Homo sapiens: one gene and its partners. The protein of the gene in region 4 purifies or fractionates together with the protein of the main gene of each other region. This does not show direct contact. Each region holds a gene or a part of one and is shown on either strand. Other genes may lie near its edges.

Region 1 (4,297 bases), on a different chromosome or scaffold from region 4:
TTCCCGTGACACAGGTGACGAGAGAGCAGTCAGGTGGCCCATAAAGCAGACCTGGGCTGTGTACCCTTCCCCCGCCAGACTCTGTCGTGAGCACTGGATCTCTTTAACTAGAGATCTTGTCATCTCTACGTCATGGGTGGGACACGGAAGCCCAGAGTGGCATCTGGTGGCGTGTGGAGCAAGAGAAGGCCCGGCCGCCCTTTTCTCAGCTCTGGGCCTAGATGGGAGGGGCTCCCTGACTGGGCTGAGCTCTGGGCCCATCCGTGGGGTGAGGGCATCACAGCCACCCTGCACTGCCCCCTTCCCAGGAGCTGGCCCTCAGCGCACTCCTGAAGTTCGTGCAGCTGGAAGGAGCGCACCCCCTGGAGAAGTCCAAGTGGGAAGGCAACTACCTGTTCCCCCGAGAGCTCTTCAAGGTGAGGGCCTTGCTGGGGACTCCCAGAGGGCCTGGCTGGCTGGCCAGATCCCAGGATGGCCCCGTAGTGGGGGCGGGGCCTGCTGAGCTGAGCCTGGCTGTTGGCTGGGACACTCCTGTGGCTCCTGTGGCCCACCCAACCAGGAGGAGTCTGCCTGGGGGGCTCGATGGGGCAGGGCTGCCTGCCTGGACCTTGCTGGCGTATGCTGGGCCGGGCAGGGCTGCTCACTGGTCCTTGCCCCTAGTTGGTGGTGGGAGGCCTGCTGTCTCCTGAGGAGGACCAGAGCCTGCTCCTGTCCCAGTTCCGGGAGTACCTGGACTACGACGACACCCGCTACCACACCATGCAGGCAGCCGTGGATGCCGTGGCCCGGGTCACTGGCCAGCACCCCGAGGTGGGTGATGGGGTCCTGTCGCCAGCATCATGCTGTTGCCTCCCAGGGAGGCAGGGACTGGGGGGCGGCGTCCAGGCACTCAGGCCAGGCTCCGCAGGTGCCCCCCGCCTTTTGGAACAATGCCTTCACGCTGCTGTCTGCCGTGAGCCTGCCCCGCCGGGAGCCCACCGTCTCCAGCTTCTATGTGAAGCGGGCGGGTGAGTGTGCTGAGAGTCAGGGGCGGACAGGGCTGAGCCTTGGTCTGCCTCCCCTGCGGGTCAGGTGACCTTTGCCCTCGCTTTCCCTGCAGAGCTGTGGGACACCTGGAAGGTTGCTCACCTGAAGGTGAGTTGCTTCTGGAGAGCCGGGCACCCTCCCGGGTTTGGGGGTGTGTGTGGGGTGCATGTGAGACCCCATGGAGGCTGCCGCCTTCCTCACCAGAGGAAACTCCCAGGGTACAGGTGGCAGCTTGCACGGCCACCAGGTCACTCGAAGTGTGGGAGGTGACGAGACCTGTGAACTCGGGACCCTCCCTTGGGTCAGAGGCCACCGCCGCCTCTTGGAGTCAAGCCTCTGGTGCCACCTGTGGGCCCCGTGGGCTGTTTTGGGCGCAGCCCCCCTCTTGGCCATGGTCTTGCCAAAGCTGCTTTCTTGGCTGTTCTGAGACTCCAGCCTCGAGGGCAAGGCGTACCTGACTTGAATGGGGACAGGAAGAAGGAAGGCAGGGTCAGAAAAGTGGAGAGCAGGCTTGTGTTGGCTCAGGCTGGGCTTCGGGGTGCCCTGGCAGCTGCTCGGGCTCTGGTCTGGGGTGGGGAGGGCGGCGAGTGCAGTCTGGACCCCGTTGCAGGAGCACAGGAGGGTTTTCCAGGCCATGTGGCTCAGCTTCCTCAAGCACAAGGTAGGGGCCAGGCCGGGGAGGGGGCGGGGGCGGCATCCGGGTCTCCCCCAGGGCGGAGGCCTCACCCCGACCCGCCGGCCCCCGCCCACCCGCCCCTCACCCCCACCTGCCGGCCCCCGCCCAGCTGCCCCTCAGCCTCTACAAGAAGGTGCTGCTGATTGTGCATGACGCCATCCTGCCGCAGCTGGCGCAGCCCACGCTCATGATCGACTTCCTCACCCGCGCCTGCGACCTCGGTGAGTGCCGCCGCCTCGCTCACACCACACCCCTAATCCCCTCGGTGAGTGCCGCCGCCTCACTCCTACCACACCCCTAATCCCCTCGGTGAGTGCCGCCGCCTCACTCCTACCACACCCCTAATCCCCTCGGTGAGTGCCGCCGCCTCACTCACACCACACCCCTAATCCCCTCGGTGAGTGCCGCCGCCTCACTCCTACCACACCCCTAATCCCCTCGGTGAGTGCCGCCGCCTCACTCCTACCACACCCCTAATCCCCTCGGTGAGTGCCGCCGCCTCGCTCACACCACACCCCTAATCCCCTCGGTGAGTGCCGCCGCCTCGCTCACACCACACCCCTAATCCCCTCGGTGAGTGCCGCCGCCTCGCTCACACCACACCCCTAATCCCCTCGGTGAGTGCCGCCGCCTCGCTCACACCACACCCCTAATCCCCTCGGTGAGTGCCGCCGCCTCGCTCACACCACACCCCTAATCCCCTCGGTGAGTGCCGCCGCCTCGCTCACACCACACCCCTAATCCCCTCGGTGAGTGCCGCCGCCTCGCTCACACCACACCCCTAATCCCCTCGGTGAGTGCCGCCGCCTCGCTCACACCACACCCCTAATCCCCTCGGTGAGTGCCGCCGCCTCACTCACACCACACCCCTAATCCCCTCGGTGAGTGCCGCCGCCTCACTCACACCACACCCCTAATCCCCTCGGTGAGTGCCGCCGCCTCGCTCACACCACACCCCTAATCCCCTCGGTGAGTGCCGCCGCCTCACTCCTACCACACCCCTAATCCCCTCGGTGAGTGCGGCCGCCTCACTCACACCACACCCCTAATCCCCTCGGTGAGTGCGGCCGCCTCGCTCACACCACACCCCTAATCCCCTCGGTGAGTGCCGCCGCCTCGCTCACACCACACCCCTAATCCCCTCGGTGAGTGCCGCCGCCTCGCTCACACCACACCCCTAATCCCCTCGGTGAGTGCCGCCGCCTCACTCCTACCACACCCCTAATCCCCTCGGTGAGTGCCGCCGCCTCGCTCATACCACACCCCTAATCCCCTCGGTGAGTGCCGCCGCCTCACTCACACCACACCCCTAATCCCCTCGGTGAGTGCCGCCGCCTCGCTCACACCCCTAATCCCCTCGGTGAGTGCCGCCGCCTCGCTCACACCACACCCCTAATCCCCTCGGTGAGTGCCGCCGCCTCGCTCACACCACACCCCTAATCCCCTCGGTGAGTGCCGCCGCCTCGCTCACACCACACCCCTAATCCCCTCGGTGAGTGCCGCCGCCTCGCTCACACCACACCCCTAATCCCCTCGGTGAGTGCCGCCGCCTCGCTCACACCACACCCCTAATCCCCTCGGTGAGTGCCGCCGCCTCGCTCACACCACACCCCTAATCCCCTCGGTGAGTGCCGCCGCCTCGCTCACACCACACCCCTAATCCCCTCGGTGAGTGCCGCCGCCTCGCTCACACCACACCCCTAATCCCCTCGGTGAGTGCCGCCGCCTCGCTCACACCACACCCCTAATCCCCTCGGTGAGTGCCGCCGCCTCGCTCACACCACACCCCTAATCCCCTCGGTGAGTGCCGCCGCCTCGCTCACACCACACCCCTAATCCCCTCGGTGAGTGCCGCCGCCTCGCTCACACCACACCCCTAATCCCCTCGGTGAGTGCCGCCGCCTCGCTCATACCACACCCCTAATCCCCTCGGTGAGTGCCGCCGCCTCGCTCATACCACACCCCTAATCCCCTCGGTGAGTGCCGCCGCCTCGCTCATACCACACCCCTAATCCCCTCGGTGAGTGCCGCCGCCTCGCTCACACCACACCCCTAATCCCCTCGGTGAGTGCCGCCGCCTCGCTCACACCCCCAACCCCCACCCCGCAGCACCTCTTCCCCGATCCCACTGCCTCCACCCCCCACTCCCCTGCCCTGCATGTGGTCTCCAGCTTTGTGTCCGTGGGGGCTGTGGGAGGGGACAGCAGGGGCAGAGGCCACACTCCACAGACTTACACTCAGTGTGGGCAGGGGGTAGGGTGGGAGCGAGGTCACTGCAGCTCCAGCCTGTGTCTGTCTGTCTGCAGGGGGGGCCCTCAGCCTCTTGGCCTTGAACGGGCTGTTCATCTTGATTCACAAACACAACCTGTGAGTGTCACCAGGGGTGCAGGTCTTCTTCCCAGTCTGCCCAGCCCTGCTCCTCTGTCCCCTTCCCACCCTGCCCCACGGGGTCCCCGCTTTCCTCACAGGCCATGGTGTTGGAGTCCCTGGGCGGGAGGAAGGGGCGCCGAGTGAGACCCTGGCCTTGGAGGCCTCAGTTCCCGGGCCCTGCTCCATCCGCTGCTCCTTCCCCCCGGCCCGCAGGGAGTACCCTGA
Region 2 (5,041 bases), on a different chromosome or scaffold from region 4:
ATCCTGAGGGTAAGTCTTAAATATTTGGTCATAAAAATCACAGTTTGGTTAAATGTATGGCCAAGCAAGTTTACTGAACTTGAGACACATCTCTTTTTTTTTTTTTTTTTTTTGAGACAGAGTCTTCCTCTGTCACCCAGGCTGGAGTACAGTGGCGCAGTCTTCACTCACTGCAACCTCCACCTCCCGGGTCCAAGCAGTTCTCCTGCCTCAGCCTCCCGGGTGGCTGGGATTACAGGCGCCTGGCTTTATCTCATGCCTGTAATCCCACACCCGGTTACCACACCCGGCTAATTTTTGTATTTTTAGTAGAGATGGGGTTTCACCATATTGGCCAGGCTGGTCTCGAACTCCTGACCTCAAGTGATCCACCAGCCTCGGCCTCCCAAAGTGCTGGGATTACAGGTGTGAACCACCATGCCTGGCCAGGATATATCCTTTGATTATTTGATTAAGTATATTTATCAATTTTTCTTCCTTTAAACATACTGCATCCAGCATTTATAAATGTTTAACATGTAGTTTGTATATAATTCTCATTTATATCTAACATGAATAGATTGCCACTAATTTCAAGTAGTAGCCGTGTTTTTGGGTCCAGCATGCAACCCATCTATAATAATTATATTTATAAATTAGTTTTTATCTACCATCATTGACTCTGCTATTTACTCACTGTTCGACCTTGGGCAAATAACTTAATTTCTCTATGCTTTTTTCCCTCCATCTGTAAAACAGAAGCAATCTTAATTACAGCACAGGATTTTCTGATAATTAAATGAATAAAGTGCATGGAGTAGTCTGATACATGGATAATGCTATATACGTTTTAGCAATTGTTGATCATTTTAGTTTATCTGTAATTGTCAAAACTTATCTCCCTCGGAATGATAACTCTTGCTTAAAACCATGCGGACATATTTCAAACTGGTAGAAATCCTTAAAATCTTTTTATAGGTGACATACTGCCCAGAGTTCCTGAGAATAGAATTTAAATAATTCCCATTTACTTTCAGTGTCTGTCTTTAATACAGGTAATGCAGAGCTCTCAGAAGATATATGTAAAGAATATGAAGTAATGTATTCTTCATCTTGTGAAACCACAAGAAATACTACAGGCATTGAAGAATCAACTGATGGGATGATTTTAGGACCAGAAGATCTGAGTTACCAAATATATGATGTTTCCGGTAAACTTTATGGTTTTATTGTTAAAATGAGAATTCAGTACAGGACACCCCCCACCCATGGTCTCTTTATACTTGTTCTGATAAACCTATGGCATTATTTTCTTATTTGAAAAGAAGGTTACGTTAATGAAATGTTAGTTGATTGTTACATTGTTTTCAGATAACATGACTTTTGTAATGTTAAGATTGTTTATGAGGGTTCTATTAAAGGAAAGCGTGAAATTAAAGATAACAGAAAAAAAGGCGGGGTGGCTCATGCCTGTAATCCCAGCGCTTTAGGAGGCCCAGGCGGGCAGATCACTTGAGGTCAGGAGTTTGAGACTAGCCTGGCCAACATGGTGAAACACTGTCCTATACTGAAAAAAAAAAATTAGCTGGGCATGGTGGCATGCACCTATAATCCCAAGATCATGCCACTGCACTCCAACCTGGGTGACAGAGTGAAACTGTGTCTGAAAAAAAAATTTTGTGTGTCTATATATAAACAACTGCCTACTTTGAACATAGAGTTGAAGTGATATGGTAAGCAATTGGTGTTTTTTTGTTGTTGTTTTTTTGTTGTTGTTGAGAGGGAGTCTCGCTCTGTTGCCCAGGCCGGAGTGCAGTGGCGTGATCTTGGCTCACTGCAATCTCTGCCTCCTGGGTTCAAGTGATACTCCTGTCTCAGCCTCCCGAGTAGCTGGGATTACAGGCACGCGCCACCACACCTGGCTAATTTTTGTATTTTTAGTAAAGATGGTGTTTCACCATGTTGGCCAGGCTGGTCTCAAACTCCTGACCTCAAGTAATCCACCTGCCTTTGGCCTCCCAAAGTGCTGGGATTACAGGCGTGAGCCACCATGCCCGGCCTTTAAGTGCTTTTAGTATTGTGCATTGTTAATTTTTTGATAAAGATAACCTTAAACTAATATGAAATGTATCTGATGAAAGAATATCTAGATTGACAGAAATTAGTTAGACTTTGAACTGTCCAAATTATAAAAATAATAAAAAATACAGTTTGGGCCAGGCACAGTGGCTTATGCCTGTGGCCAAGGTAGGAGGATTGCTTGAGCCCAGGAGTTTGAGAACAGTCTGGGCAACATAATGAGAGCCTGTCTCTACAAAAAAATAAAAATAAAAAGTTAGCTGGGTATCATGGCACAAGTTTGTGGTCCTAGCTACTCAAGAAGCTGTGGTGGGAGGATCATTTGAGCCCAGGAGGTTGAGGCTATACTGAGCTGTGATCACACCACTGTACTCTAGCCTGGGCAACAAAGGGAGACCCTGTTTCTCTGAAACAATAGCTTTGTGGTGAATTTTGATTGTAGATACTTTGTGGCTTCTGAGTACAACAGTATGTCAGATTTATCACCTCTACTAACATGCTATTAACTTTTTTTCCCTCTTCTTTTCTACCATCAGGAGAAAGCAATTCAGCAGTTTCTACAGAAGACCTAAAAGAATGTCTGAAGAAACAATTAGAATTCTGTTTTTCACGGTATTGCTGTTTCCCCTTTATTGAATTTTATTAGTAGATGTAAAATACGTGTGAAATAGAGCGCAAGGATGGTGATTATTATTTAACTAATTTTTTTTTTTATTTTCTTGAGACAGAGTCTCATGTTGTCGCTGGGCTGGAGTGCAGTGGTGTGATCTCGGCTCACAGCAGCCTCCGCCTCCAGGGTTCAAGAGATTCTTGTGCCTCAGCCTCCAGAGTAGCTGGGATTACAGGCGTGCAGCCACCATGCCCAGCTAATATTTGTATTTTTAGTAGAGACAGGGTTTCACCATGTTGGCCAGGCCAGTCTCAAACATGCAACCTCATGTGACCTGCCCTCCTCTGCCTTGCAAAGTGTCGGGATTACAGGCGTATGGCACCACACTCGGCCCCTTGTCTAGATTTAAAAGTGTAGGGTCGGGCGCTGTGGCTCATGCCTGTAATCCCAGCACTTTGGGAGGCTTCGGTGGCTGGATCACCTGAAGCTGGGAGTTCGAGACCTGCCTGACCAACATGGAGAAACCCCGTCTCTACTAAAAATACAAAAATTAGCGGGGCATGGTGGTGCGTGCCTGTAATCCCAGCTACTTGGGAGGCTGAGGCAGGAGAATCACTTGAACCCCGGAGGCGAAGGTTGTGGTGAGCTGAGATCGCACCATTGCGCTCCAGCCTGGGCAACAAGAGCGAAACTCCATCTCAAAAAAGAAAAAGTGTAGTCTCCAGTCTGATATGCAGAGGATCTATTCTTAATATAAAGATAATGAAGTTTGCATTGGATGTTTTTTCTATGAACATACTCAATTTTGGAATTGACAAAAAGTTATTTCTTAATGCATGTTTTAATAGTTGATTCTTGTAATGTTAATCATAGAGTCATTTTTGGCAAAATAGTAAGGAGTTGGACAGATAATTTATATTGCCAATGTCTTCTCTTAAATAAGGAATCCTTTCAGGCAAACATTTGGAGAAGTCTTATTTACAGATAAGAATAATGGGCCAGGCGCAGTGGCTCATGCCTGTAATCCTAGCACTTTGGGAGGGCAAGGTGGGCAGATCATGAGGTCAGGGGTTCAAGAACAGGCTTGCCAACATGGTGAAACCTTGTCTCTAATAAAAAATACAAAAATTAGCCAGGTGTGGTGGTGGGCGCCTGTAATCCCAGCTACTCGGGAGGTGGCAGCAGGAGAATCACTTGAACCGGGGAGGTAGAGATTGCAGTGAGCTGAGGTTATTCCTGGGCTCCAGCCTGGGCGGCAAGAGCGAAATTCCACCTCAAAAACAAGGAAACAAAAACATTCATGTAATATTTACTTTAGCCTGTACTTTGGGAGGCCAAAGTAGGTGGATCACCTGAGGTCAGGAGTTCAAGACCAGCCTGGCCAATATGGCAAAATCCCATCTCTACGAAAATACAAAAATTAGCGGGGTGTGGTAGCGTGGCCCTGTAGTTCCAGCTACTGGAGGCTGAGGCAGGAGAATTGCTTGAACCCAGGATGTGGAGTATGCAGTAAGCCGAGGTTGCAGCACTGCACTCCAGCCTGGGTGAATTTTACCTACTAACTAGATCATTTATGGGTCTGCTTCTATTGTCTGGGTTTCTTCTCTTGAATTATCTGTAATAATTTACTGCCTTTTTGTATGTCTTGTAAATTTTGATTTTATGCTGTACATTACATACAACAGAACCATAGAAGATGTAGGTGATATAACTCTAGACAGAGTTTGAGCTTTTTTTCTGTTAGGCAGAGAGTGATATGTTGATTGCTTCAATCCAATCAGGAACTGAGCTAGGTCAGGGCTGAGCAACAATTTTAAATGGACTCAGTTCACCTTTGATTTAGCTCTATTCCTTCTACATGGCCCTTTCAGGCTTTTGATTTAGAGCTTGGCAGTTTTGTGTCACCCTAATCTTACAAAACCAAGGAGATTTAGATCTCTAATACAGAGGTTTGAGATTTAGCTCTTTAACTTCCTACCCCATACTGCTTGAAAATCTGGCAGTGTCTTGGCCTGGCGCAGTGGCTCACACCTGTAATCCCAGCACTTTGGGAGGCCAAGGCAGGCGGATCACCTGAGGTGAGGAGTTCAGTATTAGCCTGACCAACATGGTGAAACCCCATCTCTACTTAAATACAAAAAATTAGCTGGGCATGGTGGTATGCACTACTAATCCCAGTTACTCGAGAGGCTGAGGCAGGAGAATCGCTTGAACCCAGGAGGTGGAGGTTGCAGTGAGCCGAGATCGCACCATTGCACTCCAGACTGGGGAATAAGAGCGAGACTTCGTTTCAAAAAAAAAAAAAAAAAGAAAAGCTGGCAGTGTCTTATCGGGGAGACTTGCGTTTGCCGCATTTTTGCTTGCACTGGGACT
Region 3 (5,041 bases), on a different chromosome or scaffold from region 4:
CACAGCCTCCTGGGGAGATGGCTGTGAAAGTGGGCAAAGGGTGAGTCTCAGCTTCACAGGGCTGCAGCATCAGCAGCCTCTCTTGCCTGTCCGTCAGCACTGACAGGGGCAACACCTGGCCTGGCACAAGGCTCTCCGCTTCTTGCCCTCAGGACTTGGAGTCTCTTGGAAGGAGCCTCAGCCCTTCTCTTGGTTCCTGCTTTTGTCTCTAGCCTTCCTAGAGTAGCTCAGATCAGTTCACACCCCTCTACCCACGACTACCCAGGAAAGGACATGATCCCTCATTAAGACCCAGCTATTGCCTAAGGGTCACTGAGGGCCTCAAACCCCAGAGGCTCTGTGGCAGGCACCTGGGAGCCCACTTGGCGGGCCTTGCCCTGGCCCAGACATCACAGACCACTCTCACTGCACTGGCTATTAAGTGCCTGCTCTCTACTAGGGATTCCTAGGGGGTGGCCAAGAGAAGGAAAGACACCCCCACAGGAAGGATGGGCCCAGAAACTGACTTTCCATGGCTCCGACGAGGGGTCCTGAGGCACTCTATCGAAGTGCAAGTCCCTGAATCTGTGTCCCAAGCTCTGAAAATGCAAGAGGTGCTTGGAGCAAACAGGGAGTGTCCTGTCACTGAAGGTCTGCAAGCAGAGGGGTAAGGGACTGTTTGCCTCCTACAGATTTCCCTTCTTTCTCTTCTTCTGGGCCTCTGGGCCAGAGACAGGCATTTTACTTGATGCGATCATCCTCAGCACATGCCTGACACATAGTAGGTGCTCAGTAATTGTTAGCTGTTGTTATTAACCATTATGTGAGTTTAGAGTGCCCGTCCTATTGCAGAGAGGGAGAGAGCAGAGACAAATGGTGATTCTAAGAACCTGTCCCCTTCCCTGGGACTCACTCCAGTGGCTGGTCGCCAGTTGCACCCACACGCGGCTGGCTGCGGGCAGGAGAGCTGGGCTCATTCGTTCTGGCAGCTGTCCCTGCAGATGAGGATCGAGGGTATGTGACTGCCTGAGCAGCTACTTCAATCCTAATGTCCCTTTAATAGCTCTCGTCAAATTGCCACAGCTCTCCCCAGAGATTTTCATGGCTATGGAAAATAAATAGCCATTATCTGACCTCCAGGGGAATGAAGATGTCTGCAGAATTCGGGGAAAAGCAGTTATAAAACTGAGTAGAGCCAGCGCACCCTTTCCCTATTAGCAACCTCTAAGGGAGTCCTAGCTACTGCCTAGGAAATCACAAAATAAATGTATTCACTCCTCAGACTCTCTTTTTTCACCTATTAGTATGTATATGAGTACATTTGGCTTGTGGTAGATCAGGAGAGAGAAAGAAAGAAAAAACAACTACAAAAATATGTAATGATTAGTTAGTCCAGGGGTAGCAGGAAAAGAAGCTGGTCAAGTAAAGGGTTTAATCCTTTTTTATTTTTATTATTTTTTTAGACAGGGTATCACGCTGTTGCCCAGGTTGGAGTACAGTGGTACAACCATAGCTCACTGCAGCCTCAAACTCCTGGGCTCAAGCAATCCTCCTGCCCCAGCCTCCCGAGCAGCTGGGACTACAGTGCACACCACCACACAAGGCTAATTTTCAAATTTTGGGCAGTTTTACTATGTTGCCCAGGCTGGTCCTGAACTCCTGGCCTCAAGGGATCCTCCCATCTCAGCCTCCCATAGTGCTGGGGTTACAGGTATGAGCCACCAAGCCCAGCTGGAAGTTTTTAAAACGTTTCAACATTCAAAGAATGTGAGAATGAAAATGCCCTTCCTTTTCTTACCACCTAATTTGGAAAAGAGAAACTATTTTTTTAATCCCAAAAACATTTGGTATAGCTGGCAAAAAGTGTTCTGTTCTTATATATGAGACAGTTCCTGAAATAGGCCCTAGAGACAGCACTCACGGCCAAGTGGGACCTTGCTCTGGTACTAGCTCAGGTGGCCAAGGGGTTTCAGGAGAGGGTCTGGACTTCCCCACATCCTGCTTTCATCAGCTCTAAGACTAGGTGGTGACATCTGCTTCTCAATAACCTTCACCAGGCTTGCTGTGAAGGTCACCTGAGATAAGAGACGTGAAAGGATGCTGAAGATGCAAAAGCCTAAGCCAGGCAGCCCTGCTTGGCCTGGCCTCCTGGAAAGGGGCAATGCCCCAGCCCAGCACACAACCAGGGCCTCATGATGACAATTCTGCAAAACTGGTCCTTGGCTCGTCCTCCCTTGCCAGGATGAGACTGTGCAAAGCCCCACCCACAGGCAGCTGCTCCAGGTGTCGTTTAAGGGCTCCAAATTCCTTCCAACTAAAAGTATCTTTCCATCCCTGTTGGTATAGTGGTTAGGGGAAAAAAAATTAAAAGAAAATGAACAATGTATTTTCCACGTCAAGATGCCTGAACTTCCCATAACAGCTGTCACTTTAAGAAGCCATAAGAGAAAGGGCCAGGTCTCCATAGGTCATTATTCTTCCCAGGCGGGGTCAACTTCCTCTATTAACACCCATGCACGTATCAGAAGCTACCCATGAAAGGCCAAGGGCCTACAGCAAAGCTCCCATGACTGGAAAGTATTTAAGCATAAGGAACAGAATAGTTTCGAGGGAAGGATAAGAAAGAGAGTCGGGAAGGCTGGGCAGAACACTACTTGGACAACTAAAAAAGCAAGTGGGGACATCTCAAAGAGTGGGCTGGCCACTCCCAGAACCTGTGTAAGCAGGAAACAAAAAGCATTTATTGCTGGTAAATGCTTAACAACTGGCTCTCTGGGATAAAAATGTATATATGTACAGAAATTTATTATAAATTTCATTGATAAAAATGATGTGCAGCACATAATTTATAAATAAAATATACAATGCCATTTATTGTAATTCTAGAAAAGTTTTTTACAGAATGCTTTTGTTGATTTTTGCTGACTCTTCTATCCAACCTGTTTGCAATTCAACCATGATATGACACAACCAGACTACAAATAAATGTTTGTTACTATCTGATTCAACAAAGCAGTCACTCATTTCATGGAATGGATATGGGCTGTTACTCAGTGAAAAGACACATGAGATGGTTCAGTGCTAACTCACCCTTCTGACAGAAAATGCCAGAAAGTTTCCACCCCATTGACAGGCTTGGAGTCTTGAGTACCATCTGGGTGGGTGGAGCTGGCACTGGCACGAAACCTCTCCACTGCTATCCTGACAGAGATGGGGCATGTACTTCCCAGGGCCACTTGCCAACCCAGGGAGGTTTTCCATCTTGCTGGTTTGGTGAGGGAGGCTGCTTTCAGATTTCAAGTGGACACTGCTGGCCTGGATAGGGCTGAGGGGCTCTGCCTCCAAGAGGTGTTCTTCGCTTTGTGGCATTACCTCTCTGAAGTACTTTAGAGTACTTTACAGGCCTGCTTTACTCCTCAGAATCCTGCTGCAGAGCTGAGGGCTGGATAATTTCATGTTCTCTGGCAACTGATGGCCACTGTGGTACCAGAGGAGGGATGTATGTCTGGGCACTTTCAAAAGTATGTTATTAGAAAGTTGCGCATCACGGCCGGGCACGGTGGTTCATGCCTGTAATCCCAGCACTTTGGGAGGCCGAGGTGGGTGGATCACCTGAGGTCAGGAGTTCGAGACCAGCCTGGCCAACACTGGTGAAACCCCGTCTCTACCAAAAATACAAAAATTAGTGGGGCGTGGTGGCGCACGCCTGTAATCCCAGCTACTCCGGAGGCTGAGGAAGAACTGCTTGAACCTGGGGGGTGGAGGTTGCAGTGAGCTGAGATCATGCCACTGCACTCCAGCCCTGGGCAACAAGAATGAAACTCTGTCTCAAAAAAAAAAAAAAAAAAAGAAAGTTCTGCATCAATCCTGTTGTCTCACTGTAAATAGCATAAGAACAATGTTCTGGCCCCTCCCTCCACTTGAGTTGCCAGGTTCTACGACAGGGTCTTCCCCACCATGGACCAGAATACAAGATAGCATTTTTTCTGCAGTAGTATCCAAAGCAAAAATTTCATCAGAAGGATGGCATTGGAGTCTCTTTCAGTTGAAAAGTGCATGCAGACAATTGAGTGTCAGATCCAGGGGAGAGGAAAAGGCGGCAGAGAACTAGGGAGACAGGTCGAGAGTAAGGAGATGAAGGGACATTTGAGACTCTGAATTTTTTCTTTTTTTGTAGAGGTGGGATCTTGCTATGTTGCCCAGGCTAGTCCTGAACTCCTGGGCTCAAGTGATTCTCCCACTTTGACCTCTCAAAGTGCTGGGAATATAGGCATGAGCCACCATGCCAAGCCGAGGGAAGCTGTTTCTTACAGCTGGGTTTCTTGCACATCCAGACTTCACATCCCGCCTTGTGCATACAGACTGGGAGTCCCTTGGGTAGCGGGGGACAGGAATGGGATTGGCTTTGGCCATGAGGCAGATTAAGCAACACCTAAGGGGAGTTGCTAGTGGACCAAGGCCCAGACCACAATGCAGGGGAGAGGGAGAAAAGGGGTGGAAGAGTGACAGGAACTGATATTTTTTTAGCAGTTACTATGAGAGGAATAAAACTGGACAGGAAAGAAAGAGAAAATACATAAAACAAGGACAGGTTGTTCGGCATCTCTTCAGGAGATGACTGTCTGGTACATCCTTTACCACCATTATCCTCAATCACCAATCACTAAGCATTGCCATGTACCAGGCCCAGGGGCTGGGACTATGGGAGCTAGTTCTTATAGTGGCTCATGATCTACTTGGGAAGGCAAGACCTAAAGAAATGACAAGTAAGCCACAATGGCATATGCTTTGTCGAATGAGAGGGTACCAATCAGCGAGTGTGCCGGGGACTTAGAGGAAGGGGTCACAATGCCCTGGGATGGCTGAGGTCCCCACGGAGATGTTGGGCCTTGAGCCAGAACTTGAGTGCTGGATAACACTTGAGTGGAAAGGAGGGGCACAGAGACTGTCCAGATTGGAATGGACAAGGCATAGCAGAAAGTACGGTGGTACACTCAAGGCACTGTGAACAGCAGTTTATTATTATTTTTTCCTTCATGCTGTCTTTTGGGGTCCTTAGGAA
Region 4 (5,041 bases):
CTTACTCTGGTGAAGGGAAATGCAGTAAATTTTAACATTAATTTCCATTATTATACCAAAAGACAAGGAACTCTTATTCCTGTAGGGTAGGAATCAAATGTGATGGTACTCCTATTTTACTGGTAAGGAAACTGACTCAAAGAGTCACTACGATTAAGAACAACAAAGTCTACCAGTACATTAACAAAAATCGTAATTATATAAGCAGATGCCATGACATTTTTGTAGCTATTCAGGTTTAAAGTTCTTAATAAAATAGAACAGAGGGCCGGGTACGGTGGCTCACACCTATAATCCTAGCACTTTGAGAGGCTGAGGCGGGAGGATCACCTGAAGTCAGGAGTTCGAGACCAGCTTGGCCAACATGGTGAAACTCTGTCTCTACTAAAAATAAAAAAAATTAGCTGGGCGTGGTGGCGGGCACCTGTAATCCCAGCTACTTGGGAGACTGAGGCAGGAGAATTGCTTGAACCCAGGAAGCAAAGGTTGCAGTGAGCTGAGATCACACTATTGCACTCCAGCCTGGGCGACAGAGTGAGACTTTGTCTCAAAAACAAACAAACAAACAACAACAAACAGAAAAATTTGTAAATACAAGCATTTGGAAGAAATCAACAAATATAAAATTACGAAATTTAAAGTGTCACACTATAGAGGTTGCAGTGAGCCAAGATGGCGCCTTTGCACTCCAGCCTGGGCAACACAGCAAGACTTCGTCTCAAAAATAAATAAATAAAATAAAAGTAAAAATAGCTGGGCATGGTGGCTCAGCCACACACGGTGGCTTACGCCTTTAACCCCAGCACTTTGGGAGGCTGAAGCAGGTGGATCACGAGGTCCAGAGTTCGAGACCAGCCTGGCCAACATGGTGAAACCCTGTCTCTACTAAAAATACAAAAATTAGCCGGGTGTGGTGGTGGGCGCCTGTAATCCCAGCTACTTGGGCAGTTGGGGCAGGAGAGTTGCTTGAACCCCGGAGGCAGAGGTTTCAGTGAGCCATCATGCCACTGTACTCTAGCCTGGTTGACAGAGCAAGACTCCATCTCAAAGAAATAAATAAATAAAATAAAAATAAAATGTCACGCTATGAAGCACTGAAATATTCATTTTTCACATAATGCCTCACTTAGTATTTATACCATCATCAAAAGACCAAATAAGTAGAATACTGGAAAAAATACAAAATCAAGTGGTATTTTTATAATCAAAGCAATATGATATGCCTTATTTAAAAAAGAAAAAAAAAAAGGCCGGGTGCGCTGCCTCACGCCTGTAATCCCAGCACTTTGGGAGGCAAAGGCAGGGGATCACGAGGTCAGGAGATCGAGACCATCCTGGCTAACACGGTGAAACCCCGTCTCTACTAAAAATACAAAAAATTAGCCAGGCGTGGTGGCGGGTGCCTGTAGTCCCAGCTACTCCGGAGGCTGAGGCAGGAGAATGGCATGAACCTGGGAGGCAGAGCTTGCAGTGAGCTGAGATCGCGCCACTGTACTCCAGCCTGGGTGACAGAGCAAGACTCCGTCGCAAAACAAACAAACCAACAAACAAAAAAACAAACTCAAGATGCTCAATGATTTAAGAAATAATACTAATGGGCCGTGCGCAATGGCTCATGCCTGTAATCCCAGCACTTTGGGAAGCCGAGGCGGGCATATCACCTGAGGTCAGGAGTTTGAGACCAGCCTGACCAACATGGAGAAACCCTGTCTCTACTACTAAAAATACAAAATTAGCCAGGCGTGGTGGTGGGCATCTATAATCCCAGCTACTTGGGAGGCTGAGGTAGGAGAATCACTTGAACCCGGGAGGCGGAGGTTGCGGTGAGCCAAGATTGCGCCATTCTACTCTAGCCTGGGCAACAACAACAACAAAAAAAAAAAAAAAAAAAAAAAGAAAAAGAAAAAAAAGGAAATCATAATAATGGCTGCAAAACATGTTAAAAAACCAAACAAACAGAATAGGCCAGGCACAGTGGCTCATGCCTGTCTGTAATCCCAGCACTTTGGGGAGGCTGAGGTGGGCAGATCACATGAATCCAGGAGTTCAACACCAGCCTGGCCTACGTGACGAAATGCCATTTCTACAAAAAACACAAAAATTAGCTGGGTATGGTGCGCAGACCTGTAATCTCAGCTACTCGAGAGGCTGAGGCAATTGTTTGAACCCGGGAGGCAGAGGTTGCAGAGATGGCACCACTGTACTCCAGCCTGGGTGATGGAGCGAGACTCTGTCTGGCTCACCCCTGTAATCCCAGCAGAGGTGGGAGCATCACTTGAGCCCATGAGGCGGAGGTTGTAGTGAGCCAAGATTATGCCACTGCATTCCAGCCTGGGCGACAGAGTAAGACCCTCTCTCAGAAACAAACAAAAACACCAAAACCCTCAGAATACATTTAACAAGGTAAAAAGCCTATATGAAGAAAAAACTCAAATATATTAAAGGAAAAAATGCAAAAACATACCACGATCTTGGATTGGAAGATTGAGTGATTCTAAAGGCTATGGGAAAATATAAATTGCCAAGAATACCAGATATTACAATTTAAATTGGATATAATCAGCAGTGTAGCAACTACAAAGGGAAAAACAGCAAGTTTACAGTGGAGAAAACTGGCAGATAATACCCTAGTCAAGTTCTTTGAGTTTAGCTTTGCCTACAATGGGACACACATATCTTCTAATATGATGCACTAAGGACTTATGACTTTAAAAATGCACATCCTGAATCTAACCTTGAGGGAACATCAGACAAACCCAAACTGAGGGACATTCCTATAAAACAGGACTTCAAAAATGTCAAGGTCATAAAAAGACAAAGCCTGAAGAACTGAACAGTTCAATGAAATCCAAGATTCCAGATTGGATCTTGAAACAGGAAAAAAAAAAAAAAAATAGGACAATTGACAAAATTTGCATATGGTATATAGATAAATGTACCAGTGTTTAATTTCCTGATTATGATTAGTGTACTGAAACGATGTAAGATTGATATTCCCAGCCAGGCACAGTGGCTGATGCCTATAATCCCCAGCACTTTGGGAGGCCAAGATGGGCGGATTGCTTGAGCCCAGGAATTCGAGACCAGCTTGGGCAATATGGCAAAAACCCATCTCTACAAAATAATACAAAAATGAGCCAGGCACAGTGGTACACACCTGTAGTCCCAACTACTGGGGAGGCTGAGGTGGGAGGATCCCTTGAGCCCAGGAGGCAGAGGTTGCAGTGAGCAGAGATCACACAACTGTGCTCCAGGCTGGGTGACAGAGTGAGACCCTGTCTCAGAAAAAAAAAAAAAAGATAAATATTCCCATTCTTGGGAAATACGCACTGAAATATTTAGAGATAAAAGTGCTTACTGTCTCCAACTTATGGTTTCAAAAAAAAAACTATCTGTAGCAAGATAGAGAATGATAAAGCAAATGGGGCAAAATGTTAAGAGTCAATGAATCTGGGTAGAGGTTATGTGGGAGTGTTGGGTATTGTTCTTGCAGCCTTTTTAAAGTTTGAAATTATATCAAAATAATGTTACCGAAAGACAGTATAACCCAAGCAGATGGATCAGAGGATTAAAATGGAAAATCACAGAGATCTGAGAATATATGGAGAAATCAATAGGTAAGAAAAATAATTCAATAAATGCTGCTATAAAAATTAATAATCCATTGGGAAAGGAAGTCATATTCCTACAGACTTTGTATGATACATATGCAAAATACATTTCAGAGGATTTAAACACCTCATTGTTAAGAAAAATACTGAAAAGTTAAGACAGATAATCAGACTGGTAAAACTACAAAAATATACCATAAATCACTAAGAAAAAAGAATTACACAACATAATATAAGTAGATTATCAGTAGGAAGTCTTAGCACGACACATATACTCAGTATCTCATTGTTGCTTTAAAAAAATTGGAAATAACCTACTGGTGTATTTGAAGGGGAATGGTTGAATAAATATGGTACATCTATAATAATGAATACCACGCAGCCATTAAGAACAACGTAAAGTCTTTGGTTTGTTCACAGCCACATTTTGGTACCTGAAATAATGCCTAGCACATTTTTGAATGAATTAATGAAACAGGAGGCAGATTTTTAATCATTCAGCTGAGAAAGATCACCAAATAATATTGTTAAAAGAAAAAACAAAAAGCAAGATTTAGAACAATATGTATGGAATAATCCTATTAGAACACTGCACGTTTGTACCAAAATTTAAGGACACTGATATTTATAAAGCAGTTAGCAAACAGCCAGCAGCCATCAAGAAAAAAAAAAAAAGTAGTTGTTGATACAGCTAGTTCTGTAGCAAAGCCAGGGTCAGATGAACCCAGAGTTCCTGATTTAAAGCTCAGAGCTCATTCTATCATGCCACTTACTGCACCACCAACTTGACATTAGCGGAGGTGACAGCATCTCAGACCCTACCCAGAATAGACTTCATTACAGCTTCATCTATTATAGTAAAACAACAGTGTCAAATATGTCAACAAGGAGTAGTCGTCATAGAAAATGGAGAAGCAAAAGGGATCACTGTGCACTTACCTAGTCCTGGCTCAAGGGAACATGAGTAAGTAGCATTCGTATTTTATGCTGGTGGCTGGGGGGTAATATTCCAAACTGGAACTTAAATGAAACATGCTCTTCATCAAGATGAAGGAACCACAGATTCCTTATCACTTAATTTTTTTTTTTTTTTTTTGAGAAAGTCTTGCTCTGTCGCCCATGCTGAAGTGCAGTGACACGATCTCAGCTCACTGCAACCTCCGCCTCCTGGGTTTAAGCGATTCTTCTGGGTTTAAGCTAGGACTACAGGCGCACGCCACCACACCCAGCTAATTTTTGTATTTCTAGTAGAGACAGGGTTTCACCTTATTGGCCAGGCTGGTCTCAAACTCCTGACCTCATGCCTCCTAAAGTGCTGGGATTACACACCATGCCCGGCCAAATTTTTGTTTTAAGATGATATTGCAGGCCGGGTGCAATACCTCTCTCGCTGTTTCACAGTAACCACCCTGAGTTTAAAGTTAGATTTG

The links.
Region 1: the proteins of LIN28A (region 4) and NOC4L purify together in Homo sapiens (co-immunoprecipitation; 3 studies listed by BioGRID and IntAct, with this or other methods). This does not show direct contact.
Region 2: the proteins of LIN28A (region 4) and LARP4 purify together in Homo sapiens (affinity purification with mass spectrometry; 3 studies listed by BioGRID and IntAct, with this or other methods). This does not show direct contact.
Region 3: the proteins of LIN28A (region 4) and RBM28 purify together in Homo sapiens (affinity purification with mass spectrometry; 3 studies listed by BioGRID and IntAct, with this or other methods). This does not show direct contact.

The regions. Positions count from the first base shown.
Region 1 is NC_000012.12:132,146,973-132,151,269, forward strand, and holds part of NOC4L (nucleolar complex protein 4 homolog), read left to right. Parts: intron 1-308; coding exon 309-416; intron 417-660; coding exon 661-810; intron 811-907; coding exon 908-1,007; intron 1,008-1,099; coding exon 1,100-1,134; intron 1,135-1,619; coding exon of another isoform or gene 1,620-1,636; coding exon 1,637-1,687; intron 1,688-1,811; coding exon 1,812-1,923; intron 1,924-4,008; coding exon 4,009-4,069; intron 4,070-4,285; coding exon 4,286-4,297.
Region 2 is NC_000012.12:50,427,901-50,432,941, forward strand, and holds part of LARP4 (la-related protein 4), read left to right. Parts: coding exon 1-9; intron 10-1,016; coding exon of another isoform or gene 1,017-1,034; coding exon 1,035-1,190; intron 1,191-2,594; coding exon 2,595-2,670; intron 2,671-5,041. UniProt on the Homo sapiens protein: RNA binding protein that binds to the poly-A tract of mRNA molecules. Associates with the 40S ribosomal subunit and with polysomes. Plays a role in the regulation of mRNA translation.
Region 3 is NC_000007.14:128,301,352-128,306,392, forward strand, and holds part of RBM28 (RNA-binding protein 28), read right to left. Parts: 3' UTR 1-5,041. UniProt on the Homo sapiens protein: Nucleolar component of the spliceosomal ribonucleoprotein complexes.
Region 4 is NC_000001.11:26,420,268-26,425,308, reverse strand, and holds part of LIN28A (protein lin-28 homolog A), read right to left. Parts: intron 7-5,041; coding exon 1-6. UniProt on the Homo sapiens protein: RNA-binding protein that inhibits processing of pre-let-7 miRNAs and regulates translation of mRNAs that control developmental timing, pluripotency and metabolism.